2 linked regions of the Homo sapiens genome follow. The protein of the gene in region 1 binds, or shares a complex with, the protein of each later gene. Each region holds a gene or a part of one and is shown in the gene's direction. Other genes may lie near its edges.

What was found.
Region 2: the proteins of CD40 (region 1) and CD40LG are in contact, whole or in part, in a crystal structure (PDB 3QD6), measured with the Homo sapiens proteins. Residues at the interface, in NP_001241.1 of Homo sapiens: Glu64 (codon at 1,835), Ser65 (codon at 1,838), Glu66 (codon at 1,841), His76 (codon at 1,871), Cys77 (codon at 1,874), Gln79 (codon at 1,880), Tyr82 (codon at 1,889), Asp84 (codon at 1,895), Asn86 (codon at 1,901), Leu87 (codon at 2,155), Trp109 (codon at 2,221), Cys119 (codon at 2,251); in NP_000065.1 of Homo sapiens: Ile127, Glu129, Ala130, Lys143, Gly144, Tyr145, Tyr146, Cys178, Pro217, Cys218, Gln220, Ser245, Gln246, Ser248, His249, Gly250, Thr251, Gly252.

What each region holds. Positions count from the first base shown.
Region 1 is NC_000020.11:46,120,458-46,130,234, forward strand, and holds the end of CD40 (tumor necrosis factor receptor superfamily member 5 isoform 1 precursor), read left to right. Parts: intron 1-1,362; coding exon 1,363-1,441; intron 1,442-1,775; coding exon 1,776-1,901; intron 1,902-2,152; coding exon 2,153-2,299; intron 2,300-2,668; coding exon 2,669-2,762; intron 2,763-6,182; coding exon 6,183-6,244; coding exon of another isoform or gene 6,245-6,284; exon of another isoform or gene 6,285-6,704; intron 6,705-7,521; exon of another isoform or gene 7,522-7,680; coding exon 7,681-7,767; coding exon of another isoform or gene 7,768-7,779; intron 7,780-7,872; coding exon 7,873-7,901; intron 7,902-8,424; coding exon 8,425-8,583; coding exon of another isoform or gene 8,584-8,686; 3' UTR 8,687-9,401; downstream 9,402-9,777.
Region 2 is NC_000023.11:136,642,883-136,652,770, forward strand, and holds the start of CD40LG (CD40 ligand), read left to right. Parts: upstream 1-5,275; 5' UTR 5,276-5,366; coding exon 5,367-5,522; intron 5,523-7,383; coding exon 7,384-7,515; intron 7,516-9,888. UniProt on the Homo sapiens protein: Cytokine that acts as a ligand to CD40/TNFRSF5. Costimulates T-cell proliferation and cytokine production.

The sequences.
Region 1 (9,777 bases):
CAGTTTTAAGGAGCACATGGACATAGAATTAAACATACACTTACTTTACAGTTCTTTTAAAAATCCTTCTCATTTTTTCAAAGAGGAAGTCTCTGGAGCTAGAATAGAGTTAATGCCTCTCAAAGGCTTGCTAATCCTTCTTTTAAAACAAAAATCAAGAGCAGGCCTGGGAGGGCCTTCAACAAGCAAACAACCAGCTGGGTTTTAATAACCTTGTTTTGTTTCCCCAGAATTTATTTTTAGGGTTACCTTTTATTTATGAGAAGTGATACTGGTTCTTGTCTCTTGGCAATGATGTGAGGTTTACATTTAAAGTAAATGTACCGGCCAGGCACGGTGGCTTGTGCCTGTAATCCCAGCACTTTGGGAGGCCAAGGCAGTCAGATCACTTGAGGTCAGGAGTTTTAGATCAGCCTGGCCAACATGGTGAAACCCTGTCTCTACTAAAAATACATAAATTAGCCGGGCATAGTGGTACACACCTGTAATCCCAGCTACTCAGGAGGCTGAGGCTGGAGAATTGCTTGAACCCAGGAGATAGAGGTTGCAGTGGGCTGAGATGATGCCACTGCACTCCAGCCTGGGCGATGGAGCGAGACTCTGTCTCAAAAAATAAAATAAAAGTATTGAAATTAACAATAAGTAATTAATAGCATGGGTGGTACCTGGATGTAGTAAAATGGTGAAGATGAAACACAAGTTGATGGAGAGAGGAGCATTGAGACCTGAGTTCTCATTTGGACTCTGTCACTGTGAGACTCTGGGCAAGTGACCCTCCTCTTTGGTGCTCAGTCTCAACTATCTGTAAAATGAAAGTGTGAGTTTACCCTTCCAGCTTTACATTCTAGCATTTTATGAGGGAAGGGCTGGATGAACAGATGATGAGGAGTTGGAGGAAGAAAACATGATGGGCTTTGGAAAGGAGCAGGAAGGGAAGCAGAAGAATAGGAGGAAGAGGCCAAGTGCTAAACATAGCCCCAAACAGCACTGGGACCAGCTGAAGTCAGCCAGCTTCAGGACTCCAGGGGAGCTGCTGGAGTCCCCATATCCTATGGGATCTTTGGGAAGAGGAATGACTCAGGCATCAAGCCCCAAGGAATTCTGTTCTGTTCAGAGAATATTGTGAGTTTACAGTACCATTGCTTTGTAAAAATACCAGAATGATTCTCTGGGTGCGATTATAATCAGCTCAGTTGACAATTTACTTGAAAACAAACATGCCAAATATCATGCAGGTTCCACTTTCTGTTTTGACTTGCACTTCAGTTTGCAGCCTCTGTCCTGGATGACTTTTACCTTTCTGCTGAAGAAGTTGCAACGGAGATTTCAAGATCCCTTCAAATTGCACAATTCTGTTTTTAGGTCCATCCAGAACCACCCACTGCATGCAGAGAAAAACAGTACCTAATAAACAGTCAGTGCTGTTCTTTGTGCCAGCCAGGTGAGATGCCAACCCTCTAGCCCCATCATGGAGTCCCCCTTTGCTTTGGTGGCAGACGCAGACCCCATATGTTAACTGTAAACTCAAATCTGAAACGACCCATTTCCCAGCCCTGCTTCACTGTCAGAATGTTCTGGTTCCCTCTCTACCAGGTAAAACTCTGTCTACCCTGAACTAGGGATCCCAGCTTCTCCATCTTCCTCGCCTGATTATGAAGGATCCAAGACTTTCATCTTTGAATCCCCTACCCTAAAGCCTGGCCTGATCATTGTGTGGTTAGTGTCTGACTCATGGAGTTGGCCAGAGCCCTCCCTCATTTCCTGATGTTTTCCAGGACAGAAACTGGTGAGTGACTGCACAGAGTTCACTGAAACGGAATGCCTTCCTTGCGGTGAAAGCGAATTCCTAGACACCTGGAACAGAGAGACACACTGCCACCAGCACAAATACTGCGACCCCAGTGCGTGCGCTGTTGGGAAAGGGACGCTTGGGAACCGGGCTGATATTCCCGACAATGCAGCCATTCTAATTTTATGTAGCCAGGGTCTGCTCTGATTGGTTGGAGTCCGGGCTGTACTGATCATTAAATGATTTGATTGCCATCTCTACTTGGAAGAGGGTCTGAGGAAGAAAGAGCAGGCAATGTGGGGAGTGAGGCTCAGAGCATGGCCCAGCAGGGGGTTCCCATCCTTCCTGCCCTTCTCTTCTCAGACCTAGGGCTTCGGGTCCAGCAGAAGGGCACCTCAGAAACAGACACCATCTGCACCTGTGAAGAAGGCTGGCACTGTACGAGTGAGGCCTGTGAGAGCTGTGTCCTGCACCGCTCATGCTCGCCCGGCTTTGGGGTCAAGCAGATTGGTAAGTGGCTCATCTGGGAATCAGTTTTGGAGGGGGACAGAGGAGCTTAGGGCCCAAGGTGAGGGGCTGGGCAGTGGGCACTTAGCCCCAGAGGCAGAGGAAGCAGAGGCTCCAACCTATGTCGGTATCCCCACTGGAGTGAGCTGCAGACGGGACCTTGTTCATTCTGCCTTCTGCCATGGGGATCTGCCTTTGAAGGGCAATGGGAGAAGTCCTCCTGGGGACTGCAGCTGTCGGGGGCAGTACCACATCGGGGGAAGAGTGCTCAAGGCAGGAGCTCTTCCCGTCCTGCCTGGCCACTGGCTGCCTTGTGAGCCGGACAGGTGGTCCACTGTGATGGTTAATGTCCCCCTCCCCACCCACTCCCAGCTACAGGGGTTTCTGATACCATCTGCGAGCCCTGCCCAGTCGGCTTCTTCTCCAATGTGTCATCTGCTTTCGAAAAATGTCACCCTTGGACAAGGTATAAGCACTCATCCCTTGTGTTTCCTGCTCTAAGAGTGGCATGGAGCTGCCTCCATTCTCTCCAGCCACCTGTCCTGTCCCTGCTCCCAGAGGTCCACACACACTCATGTACTTGTGAAGCATCTGCAGAGTGGCCTCATGGCCAACCAGACAGGCACATTTCCACATTTTTTTTGCCTGCTGTCTCTTTGAGGTAATAGACACTGTTGATCTCTCGCTTCATGAGAGCCTCCTATCTTGGGGGTATTGGGACACTTATTTTAGCTTTCCTTCTGCCCCTCCTGCTTCTCCTCAGTTTTCCTCGTCTTGCTTTCACCTTACCTGGCTTTCTAGGGCTTTCTGGGCTCTGGGTGCTCACCCTGAGGGCCTCCCTCTCTTACCTCCAACTCCAAACCCACACCAGGTCCTGCCACTGGCTGTCTACGTGTTTTGGGAACTTACTGTCTCCACTGTTGTCACTTTAGTTTGGGCCTCATCACTGTGGTCTGGGTGATGCCTTTTCTGCCTCCTGGCCTCCCTGCCTCTGTCTCTCCCCTCCTGCTGGTTCTGTCTCCATCCTCTTGCCAACATGAGCGTTCGACAGTTTCTTTCAAATCATGACACTCTCCTATTTGAGATGCTTCCTGTCTCTCTGTTGGAACTAAGACTCCTTAGCATGGCACCCAACCTTCCTGTTGCATTTCCTGCTCTCTTTCCTGCATCGCATAGCTTCATGCTACTTGCAATCCTCTGAACACACTGTTCATTCTCTTCCATCAAACTCATCTGCCTGGAATACCTTAAACATGGGCCCCAGGCCAGGCGCGGTGGCTCTTGCCTGTAATCTCAGCACTTTGGATGCCAAGGCGGGTGGATCACTTGAGGTCAGGAGTTCAAGACCAGCCAGCACAACATGGTAAAAACCCATCTCTACTAAAAATACCAAAAAATTAGCTGGGTGTGGTGGTGGGCGCCTGTAATCCCAGCTCCTCGGGAGGCTGAGGCAGGAGAATCACTTGAACCCGGAAGGTGGAGTTTGCAGTGAGCCAAGATAGCGCCACTGCACTCCAGCCTGGGCAACAGAGCGACATTCTGTCTCAAAAAACAAACACCTGCCCCATTAACTTTTTGCATTTGATTTTTAAAAATGGGCAAGATAGGCACATGGGACAGAAGGCACAAAAGAGCCAAAGTGATGTCTTTCTCCCATCCCTGCCCCTTAGGCTCCCAGTTCTTTCTGGAGGGAGCCATTGTTCCTTGCATATCCTTCCAGAGATTCTACATATAAACAAACCAACACACACACACACACACACAAACACACACAAAATTTCCCTCCTTTTACTTTTGCACAAATAGGAGTATACATTTTATTTGTTAACTGTCTGCCTTTCCCTAATAGATTGAAAATTCCTTAAATGTAGAAACTTGGCCTTTTTTTTTTCTTCCATTGATACATCCCCTATACCTGGAACAGTACCTGACGCATGGTAGGTGCTTAAATTTTTACTGATAAATGTTGACTGATAACTGGAGGCACCACTGGTATAGTTTTTTTTTTTTTTTTTTTTTTTTTTTTTTTTTGAGACAGAGTCTCACTCTGTCGCCCAGGCTGGAGTGCAGTGGCGCAATCTCGGCTCACTGCAAGCTCTGCCTCCCAGGTTCACGCCATTCTCCTGCCTCAGCCTCCTGAGTAGCTGGGACTATAGGCGCCCGCCACCACACCCGGCTAATTTTTTTGTATTTTTAGTAGAGACGGCGTTTCACCGTGTTAGCCAGGATGGTCTTGATCTCCTGACCTCGTGATCCGTCTGCCTTGGCCTCCCAAAGTGCTGGGATTACAGGCGTGAGCCACCGTGCCCGGCCACCAGTGGTATAGTATTAATGGAATCAGTGCATTGGCTTACGTATCTGATTACAGCTCAGTAAGTGTGTGACCCTCACTGAGCCTCAGTCTCCTCATCTGAAAAATGGGAATGACCTTCATTTCACAAGGCTTGAGCTAAAAACATGTAAAGTGTATTGTAAATTCCTGAATGCTCTACTCATGTAAGACTAAAGTAGGCCGGGCGTGGTGGCTCACACCTGTAATTGCAGCACTTTGGGAGGCCGAGGAGGGCAGATCATGAGGTCAAGAGATCGAGACCATCCTGGCTAATATGGTAAAACCCTGTCTCTACTAAAAATACAAAAATTAGCTGGGCGTGGTGGCGCACATCTGTAGTCCCAGCTACTCAGGAGGCGGAGGCAGGAGAATTGCTTGAACCTGGGAGGTGGAGGTTGCAGTGAGCTGAGATCGCGCCACTGCATTCCAGCCAGTCTGGCGAAAGAGCAAGACTCTGTCTCAAAAAAAAAAAAAAAAAAAAAAAAAGACTAAAGTACATGGTTTCTTCAAAGCTTCTCTCTCTTTCTCCCACCTTAGATGATTTTTCCTTTGCAATGTCCTGTGTCCATTCCGCCCCACTCCTCCTGGGGCCACCTGGACCAGGTCTTCATCATCTCATATCTATATGTTTGCTGTGTCTCCTGGCTGGCCACTCTTCTGTAATTTCTCCTCCTCTGAGCTCTCTGGGCAGCTGAATCTTCTCACTAGTGAAGTCGCCTGGTTGGATGCTGATGAGACTGACCAGCTGAATCCAGTTGAAAACTTCACACTTGGCAGTGATCTGGTTCTAAAGACACAATTTTCCATAGTTTCCTAACACCATCCTGCATGCCACCTGCCTTATTTCCCCACATCACATCGTCCCACTTAGCGGGACTGCACTGCTGATCCAAATTTTACATCCTTTAGGGCCCACTCAGGTCATATGTCCTCAGGGAAGTCTTTCTGGAAGAACCTTAAACCAGAGGTTCTCAACAGGGGGCAGTTTTGCTCCCTGTGGAACGTTTGCCAATGTCTGGACACATTTCATTCGTCACAAACGGAGAGGGGGATGCTACAGGGATCTGGCGGATAGAGGCCAGGGATGCTGCTGAACATCTGCAATGCATAGGACAGCCCACCCCCACCCCCACACCCCCAGTAAATAATGATCCAGCCCAAGTGTCACTGGTGCTGACGTTGAGTAACCCTATCTTAAGCTGAACTCATCATCTCTCCATTCCAGCCTTGGTGGATTCTGTCTCCTCTGAACCATTCCCATCTCACTTTAGCCTACCTAGATCACAAAGCTTGGCACTCATTATAGACTCCCCTATTTATTACTCCTTCAAGATGTGCAAGAATCTTTTCTCTGCACTTTTAAGTTCTGTAAGAAGAGTCTGTGTCGTTCCTATAATAACCAGCATAGGACGTTGCACGTGTTGTGTGCTCAGTGAACCTGGATTTGTTGATTGTTGACTGACTCACTCTAGAGTTGGAAATCTTATGCTTGGGGAAACTTAATATCTCTTTCTTTCTCTGTGTGTGTGCATTTGTGCACGTGTCTGTGCATAGCTGTGAGACCAAAGACCTGGTTGTGCAACAGGCAGGCACAAACAAGACTGATGTTGTCTGTGGTGAGTCCTGGACAATGGGCCCTGGAGAAAGCCTAGGAAGGTGGGAACTGAAGGGGGAGATGAGGCACACAGGAACACTGGATGGGAAAAAGGGGAGGGGAGGCAGTTTGGGGGTGTGGTATCACAGCTCTGCCACTTATCTTGGGAGTCTGGGCAAATCACTTCCCCTCTCTTAGCCTCAGTTTCTTCATCTGTAAAATGGGATGATAACAGCACTTCCTTAGTAGGTTTTGATTTTAGAGTGAGAAGGTTGGCCTACAGTAAAGATCAGATAATGTAAATCAGTGAAAAAGGTCAGGGGTAAGAAAATTACATTCTCTTTACCTAACGCTAAATGACCAGTTAATGGGTGCAGCACACCAACATGGTACATGTATACATATGTAACAAACCTGCACATTATGCACATGTACCCTAAAGCTTAAAGTATAATAATAATAAAATTTAAAAAAACGAAAAATACATTCTCTTTGCTTTTTCTCAAAATGTACTTTCCTCTTTGTAGGGCTGGGACTAGAATGAGGTGAGCAAGGCACTTGCCCTCGGGCGCAATATTTAAGAAGGTGCCATAAAAGTGTAGTAATCAAGGTAAATTCATTTTGATGCAATATTTTTAAAAATAAAAATTAATGCAAAGAAATCCATGATGAGCAAGATAGCAACATTTTAAATAAAGAACAGGATCCGACCCTGTGTTTGCATGACCCTGCCTCACTCACCTCACCCTAATCCTGGCCCTGGTTCCAGTAAAAGGAATAGGCAGCCAGCCTGCAGGCCGTAGTTTGCTGACTTGGTGTCCGCCTGATGATTTTCAAAATATGGCATTAAAAGAATGTTTACCTTGATGACTGAGTGTTTTGGACATCCTTTTCAATTTTGTCCTGAAACAATTTCATCCCTTGCCTCACGCTAGTCTCCGCCCTGCCTTTTGGTCTTTCTTTTATTTTCCCACTTTGAAAAAAAAATTCGGCATGAGAAATACTTTACCTTTCCCCTCCACTCTTCTATACCAAAAGCAACATGCAGACATGAATCATGCTAGACCTCGGCATTGGGCAGAGAGCAGGGAGTGGCGGGGAGCATGGTGAGCAGGTGGTGACAGCCACTGCCACCACTCGCTTCTAGATGGTTCCCAGGTGGGGAGGCTGCCAACTGGAACCCAGTCTTCCCAGTTTGTAAGAGAAATCAGATGTCTAGGTTTGAATATGTGATCTCCCAGTTTAAAAATGTCGGCAAATATTTCCAAACGTTAAGAAAATGTTCTGGCTCCTTTAAAGACATCTGCCAGCCACATTTCCCCAAGGACCGCGGTTTGAACCTTCTGATGTAGATGAGCTCTGACATTGGAAGATTCTGGAGTCTGACAAGTCACAGCAGGTTGAGGGTAGGGAGAAACTGCAGGTGAGGGGTGCATGCTGAAGTCCTGATTTCTCCAGGTCCCCAGGATCGGCTGAGAGCCCTGGTGGTGATCCCCATCATCTTCGGGATCCTGTTTGCCATCCTCTTGGTGCTGGTCTTTATCAGTGAGTCCTCAGGTGGGGAGGTGTTGGGGGAGGGAGGGGAGACCACCTGTTTCTTATCTGGCCTCTCCAACTCCCCATCCTTTTTTTTTTTTTTTTTTTTTTTAGAAAAGGTGGCCAAGAAGCCAACCAATAAGGTAGGTCACCCCTGAGAACCCGGGACAGAGTTTTGACAAACTGGGAAGATGGCCTCACGGTTGCCTATGGGGCAGTAAAACTGATTCAGAGTCTGTCTCTGCAGCCAGTGGGGTGGCAGCAGAATTGGGGACTGTCATCCCCACCCACCATGCTCCTTCCATCCAGAGCTCAATCCCCCACAGAACTGCCCCTGGCACCACTGGCAGAGCCTAACACTGGCTGTTCTTCACTCCTTTCCTGGCATTCAACGCGTGGGGAGCTGCATCTTTGGGCCTTGGGGCTGGGTCAAATGGGTGGGAGCAAATGTGGCAGCCCCTTAAGCCCACTGGCTCCCACTCTGGAAGCTCTTCGTCGCCCTTGGTGTGGCCAGCAGGGGGCAGGAGGCACCCGAGGAATCAGCACTGACCCGCCGTCTGGGAAAGGGGGGAGGGCTTGGGGAAGGGATCCGCTTCCCAGGGAGGGGCTCCTCAGAGGCACAGCTGCCCCTGCTGCTGGGGGTGACCTCACACCTTGCCTCTCCAGGCCCCCCACCCCAAGCAGGAACCCCAGGAGATCAATTTTCCCGACGATCTTCCTGGCTCCAACACTGCTGCTCCAGTGCAGGAGACTTTACATGGATGCCAACCGGTCACCCAGGAGGATGGCAAAGAGAGTCGCATCTCAGTGCAGGAGAGACAGTGAGGCTGCACCCACCCAGGAGTGTGGCCACGTGGGCAAACAGGCAGTTGGCCAGAGAGCCTGGTGCTGCTGCTGCTGTGGCGTGAGGGTGAGGGGCTGGCACTGACTGGGCATAGCTCCCCGCTTCTGCCTGCACCCCTGCAGTTTGAGACAGGAGACCTGGCACTGGATGCAGAAACAGTTCACCTTGAAGAACCTCTCACTTCACCCTGGAGCCCATCCAGTCTCCCAACTTGTATTAAAGACAGAGGCAGAAGTTTGGTGGTGGTGGTGTTGGGGTATGGTTTAGTAATATCCACCAGACCTTCCGATCCAGCAGTTTGGTGCCCAGAGAGGCATCATGGTGGCTTCCCTGCGCCCAGGAAGCCATATACACAGATGCCCATTGCAGCATTGTTTGTGATAGTGAACAACTGGAAGCTGCTTAACTGTCCATCAGCAGGAGACTGGCTAAATAAAATTAGAATATATTTATACAACAGAATCTCAAAAACACTGTTGAGTAAGGAAAAAAAGGCATGCTGCTGAATGATGGGTATGGAACTTTTTAAAAAAGTACATGCTTTTATGTATGTATATTGCCTATGGATATATGTATAAATACAATATGCATCATATATTGATATAACAAGGGTTCTGGAAGGGTACACAGAAAACCCACAGCTCGAAGAGTGGTGACGTCTGGGGTGGGGAAGAAGGGTCTGGGGGAGGGTTGGTTAAAGGGAGATTTGGCTTTCCCATAATGCTTCATCATTTTTCCCAAAAGGAGAGTGAATTCACATAATGCTTATGTAATTAAAAAATCATCAAACATGTAAAAAGAAAAACGGGGGTGAACATGCTGGGTGACATGAGCTATTTAACCTGCTGTCAGGCTCACGGAATGAGGGCATTTTCTGTAGATAAATAAGAATGTCCCCAGGCTGCTGCCCCTCCAGGGTGGTTTCCATGTGTGCTCACATGTGGTATTGAGATTGCAAAGTGCTCTTCCCATTTGATTCATGTTCACAAAAATAGCCTTCCCCAGCAGGGTGGGTCTGCATCCCTCCCTCTTTTACAGAGGTGGAAATGAGGTCCAGAGAGGCGAAGTGACTTGCCTGTGGTCACACAGCGGTGTCTGGTGGTGCCATGCTCAGAGCTCCTCACTCTGGGTCCTGAGCTCCTCCCAGATCTGCCTGCTGTCTGGAACTGACATCT
Region 2 (9,888 bases), on another chromosome or scaffold:
AAGGAAGAGATGGGAAAAAGACTGCATTACATACTCTTTCATACTCTTTCATTTACATTTTAGACCATGTGAATGTATTATTTAGTCAAAAATAAATATAAAAAGGAAGAAACCACAACAACCATAGGAAATAAGAAAAGGTGACATCAATGTGACATAAATTTTGAGAGATAGCAACAAGCAAGAAAGGCCATGAATTTGGACTAACAGACAGATCAGAGCAGTAAACATTGCAATTCAATAAGTTGTAAGAGTATGCTTTCCCAAAGAAGCATTAATCACAGAGTCAATGAATGTGAGGAGCAGGGGTGGGCTATGAGGCAATCATTGAAGAGCGGCAGCGGAAACAGCTGGGAAAAGTGGCCCTCTCCCTCTCTCTCCTTTCCCCCAGTGGACCATTTGTTAGCAGCAGCATTTGGCCTTGGCCCTCAGTCTAAAGTTACCTAGAGAGGGCTCTAGGAAGGGTGCTGAGACCTCCACAACAGATAGGAGGACAAAACCAAAAGGAAAACCAATATTAGTCAAGAGTGAAACCTTCTACAAGGCTCCACCCCCAGAGAAAAGCCCTCCTTACTTCATCAGTTGTGGGGGTCCCTGGTCTTCCTGCCTCTCCACCCACATAACCTAAAGGGAAGCCTGACTGTTGACATTTCCTACCCACTTAAACAGAACCCACAGTCAGCCCTCCCATTCCGGAGAGAGGTTTGTGGGGAAAACAGATAGATCAACACAATTGCAGAGGAAACTCATGCCATCTACCCATAATAACCAACACGGGTTTTCATTCATAAATAAATAAATGGCCAAGCATTTGAGAAAAACTAGCAACATAATGAAAAGGACCAAAATAAACAAATGGAACTGACCCAGAGGAAAGAGGGAGAATTAAGGGAATTGAAGAAAATGTAAATATATTCTGACATGTATTGCTAGAAAAGCTAGCCAAGCGCTATTCTCCCAGGTTAGAATATTTTACAACTTCCCCTTCTATCTCTTTAAAATAATATTTAGTAATTTGGCAAACATTTACTAACTCCTTACAATGTGTCAGGAACCAAAATTTCTGGGTTTTTTTGTTTGTTTGTTTGTTTTAATTATCTTTTTCCTCTAATAGCTAATGGTAGAAAAATCAGACAAGTCCATTATGATATGATGTGGCAAATGCTATGATAGATTAAGCACAGAAGAGGTAGGGCACAGTGGCTCACGCCTGTGTAATCCCAGCACTTTGGGAGGCCAAGGCATGTGGATCACCTGAGGTCAGGAGTTCAAGACCAGCCTGGCCAACTTGGTGAAACCCCGTCTCTACTAAATTTACAAATATTAGCCAGGCAGAGTGGTGCACGCCTGTAATCCCAGCTACTCAAGAGGCTGAGGCTGGAGAATCACTTGAACCCGGGAGGTGGAGGTTGTAGTGAGCCAAGATTATGACACTGCACTCCAGCCTGGGTGACAAAGCCAGACTCCTTCTCAACAACAACAACAACAAAAAGATTAAGTACAGAAGAGAGCACCTTGTCAGCTGGAACAGAATATTTCACTTAAACATTAATAGATAGCCGGGCGCTGTGGTTCACATCTGTAATCCCAGCACTTTGGGACACCGAGGCTGGCAGATCATGAGGTCAGGAGTTTGAGACCAGCCTAGCCAATATGGTGAAACCCCGTCTCTACTAAAAAAATTTTGTAAAAATTATCCAGGCGCGGTTGCGCAAGCCTGTAGTCCCAGCTACTTGGGAGGCTGAGGCAGGAGAATCGTTTGAACCTGGGAGATGGAGGTTTCAGTGAGCTGAGATCGTGCCATTGCACTCCAGTCTGGGCGACAGAGTGAGACTTTGTCTCAAACAAACAAACAAACAAACAAAAAACATTAATAGATAAGACAGGAGAGAATTAGCCTTGGCACACAAATAACATGAATAAGCACAGCACATTTCAGGAAATAAAACTAGCTTAAAATGTTTGAGACCTAATGAGTCGTAGACGATGAGGAGAGAAATGTGGGCAGGGGTCAACTCATCTGCCATGTTAAGAATCGAGACCCTTTCCTCTAGTCTAGAGCTTTTCAGGTATATTCAGGGAAAAGAACCCTTAGGAGGCCCTTCATACAACAAACAAAATACTGTTATATTTAACTCTTTCATATGTACTGGAAATGATTTTCCAAGCAGAAATTATGACTGTGTTCTGGGTTATCAATATAAAATCACAACCACAGGCATATTCACATCAAAAACAAACTGTTGAAGTATGATCCATTGTTTTTCTTATTTTTCCCTTGATATTTGCTACAAATCAATCACTAGCTAGCAGAAAAGTAGTAGTAGAAAAGGGTGACCAATATTTAAGAAAATTCTGTGTAAAAATAACTGAAAAATGAGACTTCAATCCATTAACTTAATTCTTTCTGTAAACTTAGAAAAAGATGGTCAATATTTGATTTTGGCTATAGACACTTGCATGCACTCCTATACATGTATACATTTCTTGGAAACTAAGTTTGATAATCATTTTTGGACGTGTTAGGCAGCTGAAGATATTAAAACGGAGCCAACTCCCTGTTAGGGAGAGACAGGCATGAGAGGTTCTGAGACAAAGAACTTCTGATGCAGAATCAGAAATCAAAAAAACAGCCCAAATGAGGAAGCTGGAAAGGTAGCCAATTGTGGCATTATGGTAGAGGACCAGGCAGAAGGATGAGAGAAAGAGAAGGCTTCAACAATTGAGGTACAAGCAGGGCATTCTGGAGTCAGTTGCTGTCAGTGTGAAAGATGGATGGGGTGGGACAGAAAGAGAAACAGGGAGATAAGTTAGGATGGTACAATTCAGTAATCTACAAAGGAGAGGATATATGGGCCTGGAATAGGATGATGGCAGGGGCCATGGAGAGAAGTGGTGGCAACCAAGGTTTTTGGAGGAAGAAGCCACTGGGATTGGGGCAATCTGGGGCAAGAGAGAGTGAAAAATCATGAATGGATCCCAGATCTCTGACTTGGGCAATTAAGTGGGTGGTGGGACCATTCACAGAGATACGGAGAATCTTAAGGGAGAACAGGTCTGGATTGGAATTAGAGTGGTGAGATAAATTAATTTTAGAGCATACCAAATGTAAGATGGCTTTGGGATATCCAAGTAGAGATTTTCAGAGGTAGCTGTGCTTACAACTCTGAAGTTCAGGACTTCAGTTATAGATTTGAGATTTATCACAATGAAGGTGAGATTGAAACCCATGAAAGTTCATGAAACCCATGAATCACCCAATGAAACCATGGAGAACAAGAAGAGAGGGGAGGAGAGGAGAAGGGAGAAGGAAAGGAAATAGAGAGAAGGAATACCAAAGTTTTAAGGGATACAAAGAGGAAAGAAGATAACATGAAGAAGGATTCTGAGAGGCAGAAGCCCTTAAGAATAGGGTGATATAGAATTCAAGTGGGGAGAGCATTCAGGAAGATGACAACAGGATAATAGGTCAACAGAGTAATAGAGAGGTCGCTAAAAATAAACTCTAAGAAGTATTCAGCCAAAACTATTATTGAGCTAATAATGGTGGGATCAATTTCAGGGGAATATTGTGGGCAGAAGTCAGACTGTAGGAGGCTGGGGATCAAGAAGTTGAGGCAAGGAGGTTGGACAACAACTGTTTTTTCAAGTTGGTCACGTGAACAAATCTGTGACCTTCAGCCTCCCCTCCCTCGGGTCTTGGCTGAGCTGATTGCAGGGCCCCTGCAGCTCTGGCACTCTCAAGTTGTATAAAACTGACAGTGCAGAAGTCCTTGAGCCCATTTTGGCTCTCATGATAATTTTCCTTCAGTGGAACTAAGGTTACTTGTCTAAGAACCAAAGCCTCTGACTTGACTGATCAAAGTTCATCACGTGCATCGAAGCCACCTACTTGGCAGATGTAGTGAAAAGCTACATAGATCTGGGCCCAGGACAGGATGCTGGGGCGTGGGAGGGGAAGAAAGCAGGTGCTAACTATATAGATAGCATGCCTATCAGAGCAGTTTTTACGTTTCCTATTTGTCTCTCAAAACAATTTTATAGGAATCATCAAAGCAATTTTATCATGGTTTCTAGACCAGGTTTGGATGTGAGGTAGGGATTTCCACAGCTGCTTTTAGTTTGAAGGAAATCTGATAAGATGATGCAAAAGCCCTTCAGAAATGTGTAATCCTACACACTTCAGTGATTCAATTCATTGTCAAAACTTAAGGTGTTTTTAATATTGTTATTGTTCATTTGGTTTTTACCAACATGTAAGGAGTTGGCAATTATTTGTTAAACTCATGTCTTAGGCTAAATAAATTCCAAAAAATTCAGGATGAGAATTGTTTATTGCTTAACGTGTTTCAAATTTCTTCCATGCACATCTTTATTAGATCTTCACAGCAACCTACAGGATAAGCAAGACAGGTGCAAGTGCCTCCTTTGGGTATGAGGAAACTGAGGTCTAAAGAGATGAAGTGATTTGCCCAAGGCTCATAGCAATTTATTGGTAGAGCAAAGACTAGAATTCAGATCTCTTAACTGCAGCCTATTTTCCCTATTCTGAACTGTTACATCAGCATCAACAATTATCTAATGGATTGGAACAGTGTACACAGGCAGCTTAGCTACGTCAAGTCACGATTTTTACTTTAACTTCAATTCCAGAGTCTTGGCCTGATTTCCCTCAAGACCCTACTTATCTTTGCCTTTGCAAAATTTATTTTTCTTGCATTATCTTTCCAGCTAAATTTTATTTAATAACCATCAGCATGCTTTTTTTGCTTTATGCCATGTAGACTTGACCTGAAAACCTGCCAGGCTTTCATTGAGTTTAGTGATTAAAGAAGTAAAGTTCTGAGAAGCAATTAGTTGATGGGACACCAGTCATAAAATCAATCCAAACTTTTGTTGACATGTGTTTCTTTCTCCATATACCAGGTTCCCGCTTCGTATTAGTAAGATTGAAATTGAAATAAGTCTATTGCTGGTGGATGAATTTGTCACTTTCCTTGAAACTGGTGAACCCAAAAAGTTAGACAGTGATAGGAAAATACTGCCATTGTCTGTTAAGAAGTCTATGACATTTCAAGGCAAGAATGAATATATGGAAGAAGAAACTTGTTTCTTCTTTACTTACAAAAAGGAAAGCCTGGAAGTGAATGATATGGGTATAATTAAAAAAAAAAAAAAAAACAAAAAACCTTTACGTAACGTTTTTGCTGGGAGAGAAGACTACGAAGCACATTTTCCAGGAAGTGTGGGCTGCAACGATTGTGCGCTCTTAACTAATCCTGAGTAAGGTGGCCACTTTGACAGTCTTCTCATGCTGCCTCTGCCACCTTCTCTGCCAGAAGATACCATTTCAACTTTAACACAGCATGATCGAAACATACAACCAAACTTCTCCCCGATCTGCGGCCACTGGACTGCCCATCAGCATGAAAATTTTTATGTATTTACTTACTGTTTTTCTTATCACCCAGATGATTGGGTCAGCACTTTTTGCTGTGTATCTTCATAGAAGGTTGGACAAGGTAAGATGAACCACAAGCCTTTATTAACTAAATTTGGGGTCCTTACTAATTCATAGGTTGGTTCTACCCAAATGATGGATGATGGTAGAAACCAAATAGAAGAATGGTCTTGTGGCATAATGTTTGTTGCCTAGTCAATGAAGTCTCATATTCTTGTCTCTGGTTAGGATCTTGGGATCTGGAGTCAGACTGCCTGGGTTCAAATCTTGGCTCTGCCCATACCATCTCTGTTATCCTGGGGCAAGTGCCTCAGTTTCCACATCTGAGAAATGGGGATGGTATTGGTGTCCATTTCATAGATTAAGTGAGTTTAGCCTTGTAAAAAGCTTAGGAGGGGGTCTGATACATAGTAAGCACTATGTACGCACTAGCTATAATTATTTGCTAAAGTTCTGCTTTAAAAGTAAGCTATTTTTTTATGGAGACAGCTTTTTTCTTTTAAATTTCCAGCTAGGCAAGAAGAGCGTCAATTTGATCTAAAATTTCATAATGCTTCAGATTAACATAGACATGGATAAGTCCCAGAATTTGCAGTCTTTTAGTAAAAGTAGCATTTTCTGTGTAATTCTTCACAAGCACTGATTGTAGTTGCAGGATGCTCAGTCTCCCTCTGAGATGTTTTACATTTTTAAATGGTTAGACTTGCAGGAACAAAAGAGCAGAGTAACTTAGTAGGCTGTTTTGCATTCTTAGGAAAAGAAAACCATCAGGACTTATTTTGTTTTCATGTATTTTTTCACTTCCACTGAGGAGTATAATTGGCTGGTGTTGACAAAATACCAATCATAGATGTAAAGGAGAAAGTTGATTAGTTTTCTGGCTGTTCCTAAAATTCTGGATGCAGGAACTGTGGCTAGAAAGCATCTGGATGATTGCACTTTATCAGGGATACTTGAGTGTCCTCTCTTAGGATCTGGACCTAGAATTAATGTCATGAGATTTTTCTAACAGGATAAGGTGAGGTAGTGAGGGCTGAAGTCATCCACTGGGTTATCCAAATATTAGGTTTCACTGCTGACAAAAGAGGGGGCTTCTGGTCTGGTTGGTTATTTGTGTTTGGCCTGATGTGCTCTGTCAATCAAATGTATGGACATAGGCCTAGCTTCTAAAGGGGCAATAGTGACCTCAGTGGACTGATATTTACCGTACTATTTACATGTGCTCTTAATTACAGCAGAAGCTGCCAGCTAACTGAATCTTGTTTTGAATCTAAAAAATCTACTCTTAAAGCAAGAAAATGGTATAAAATTAGTTGATAATGCAAGTGAATTCTGTACATTTAATTATTCTAAGACATTGGAAAATAAAATATCTTGTTACTTTGAGGATAAAAGATGATTTCTTTAAAAATGCAAATGTTTTCTACAAATACTAAAGTTAAAAGGGAGAGAGATGTAATTAGAACTCGTTAACTGACACATTGCAAATTAACTTCTTTTTATAAAGCACTGCATCACAAACACTAAAATGAAGTGGGCAAATTAGCTCTGCAGAAAACTATTTTCTAGGCTGATGTTTATAATGACCAATCATTACTGAAGCAATGAGAAATGTGACAATTACAGAATATTGCTGCTATAGTATGTTGAAAAAATATGCATTTTGTAGTGAACATTTAGTAGAATAGCTCTGATTTCTACCTGGAGTTTCTGATAACATGACATCTTAATTGCTGTCTTTTATAGATTTTTAAACTGCAAATACAAAATAGCAATCAGCCAATATAATAACTTATTATTCTCCATTTATGCCTGAAAGTCCTCCTCTTGTTGATGCCGTGGAAATGAATGTAGAGGCAGATATCATTAGCTGTATTCTCCTTCCGAATGACATTTATCATATCCTTGTTATTCCAAAATAGATAGAAGATGAAAGGAATCTTCATGAAGATTTTGTATTCATGAAAACGATACAGAGATGCAACACAGGAGAAAGATCCTTATCCTTACTGAACTGTGAGGAGATTAAAAGCCAGTTTGAAGGCTTTGTGAAGGTAAGCAGCTTAATTACTGGTAAAAGTGTCATTGAAATATTTTACTACATTTGCTAGATCGGGAAACTGACAATGCCAATGTTTAAAGATTGGTTATAGACACAGACACACAGACACACACACACATATATATGCATGCAGATATACACACATACATGGGTGTGTGTGTGGGGGTTAAAAAAAAAAAACACAAAGACACTCTCTGGGGAAAATACACCCTTAGGGGCACAGTCACACATATTTGTCAGCTTACATATGCAGCTACCACTAGGCAAAATGATGAAGTCCACCAAGCTTGGTTTTTGCATTGCTGTGTCTCCCCATCCAAACCTTGATGCTCTCGCACTGGGGACCCAGAGTCTGATCCCCATTTCCCAGGGAAGCAATAGCCGTCAACAGCTGCCGTGGCAGCAGGCCACAAGTGAAGGGACACCTGAAGACTGGTAACAGTCTCTGGTGCTTCTCTGATGATGGAATTTTAGGTGTCCTGACAGTGAGATCTTTCCCTTTTACTGGGGAGAGAGGTGCAGGGAATAAGTAATAGACATTCTCAGTGTCGCTCAAACCAGACTCCATATAATATCACTTGCTCATGAAGCCCGCCCACTCTATGGCCGGTCATGACCAGAGGCACAGAGGGTTCAAAGCCTTTTAGCCCACCAGGCTGGTAGCTAGCATGAAGTCACTGCAGTGACTGTGGCTTATAACAGATACCTAAAACAAGAATTTTTAGAACCTTTACATTAATTCCATCATCACAGACATAGGGTCTAGGGGCTCTTTCTCCTGAGGCAGAACATCAAGAGTTCTTTCTGCCTATGTCCCTTTCAGAACACTGAGTCAAATACCCTTGGGCCTCGGCTCACTTAGGGGTCATTTCTAGGAGGCAGCACTCCACATTGAGGACAGTTCTGGGCCAGGTGGGTGGGTATCTGGGTAAACCAACAGGAATTAGTTCTCACATATAGATGATGTGTAATTTAATGCAGGCGTAAAAGGGTTAAGATCTTATTTCTGATCTTATTTCTGCCCTCCTGTACTGTCACCGAGGTGCCATTTAATTCATTAGTGAAGACTCTAACAGCTTATTCCTGAGTCACCTACGGAGAACAGAATGTGGCTCAAATCCGCTGCTTGCTTTCAGGTTCTTTACACTAATCTAGGCTTTAGATGAAACTCCTAAACCCTTTCTTTGCAAGACTGGCCAGCTAGGAAAATGATTTGAGTTTCTTCGGTTCTTCGAGGATTTGGGCCAGTATTACAGAGTATTGGAAGATGTTACCAGTTTAAATGTGAATAAAGGCACTTTCAAAACAATGGCTAATAATCCAAATAACAGACTGAATGTGCTTGGCTATGTGACTTTGGGTAAATAACTTCACCTTTCTGGGCCTCAGTTTTGTCATCTATAACATGAGAAGACAGATTATCTGTAAGGGCACTATCAGCTCTGACATTCTACAATTATGTGATAAGCCTTCAGTTCCCTCCAATGGCAGTGAGAGTGGCTTGTCAGTCCCCCTCGTTTCTTACGGAGACTTTTACGGTTGAATTGTCAATTCCTCACGTCATTATTTCAGGTTGGCTATGTATGTAAAGCTCCCAAAATCAGCTACCGAGGATAGGAGTAAAGAAAACAGTCAGTTTGGCCTCCCTGCTTATGCTTGTATGAAAAAAGTGACAGCTCCAAAGTTTCATATTCTTAAAAGGCAGATCTTCTCAGGCATGTCAGCCAGGGCCCCAGGGATCTCCTCCTTACATGCAACTAAGGAGGCTCCTTGTCTCTACTGCAGCAGGTGTGGAACCCTAGTCAACACCACCTATACCTAGGATTACGTACAATGAGTAGATACAAAGTCCTCCAGCTACCCAATCCTCCCCCAATGACGGATCCCCTTTCCAATACGCTTTCCCCCAAATTTCTCACCCTAAAACAAAATTCGAGACTTTGAAAAAACTCAATAGGACAATTATAGAATAGCTCCAGATTAGATTCATATTTTCTTAGCTAATGTTAGTAGGCTTTCTTTCCGGGCCACAGTCTGGCTGCACCTAAGCAACCTCAAGTTTGAATTTGGAGTCTTTGAATCAGGTCTTGATGGGGTCTTAGAAGTCATCAGATCCAATTCTCAATCCACAACTTCAGTCTTCTCTCCACCTCCTGACTAAGTGGTCATCCAATCTCTGTTTGAACATCTCTAGTGACAAGGAACTCATTATCTCTGGAGGCAGGTAGCACTAATCTGTCATTTTGGGGGAAAGATGGTATTCAGGGCTCAAGTGAGGGTAAGCAGAGGTATTATTTTGAATAGTATAATTTCATATTAAAACTTACAACCCACCACACCTCTGCTAGATGTTCAGTTCCATGAT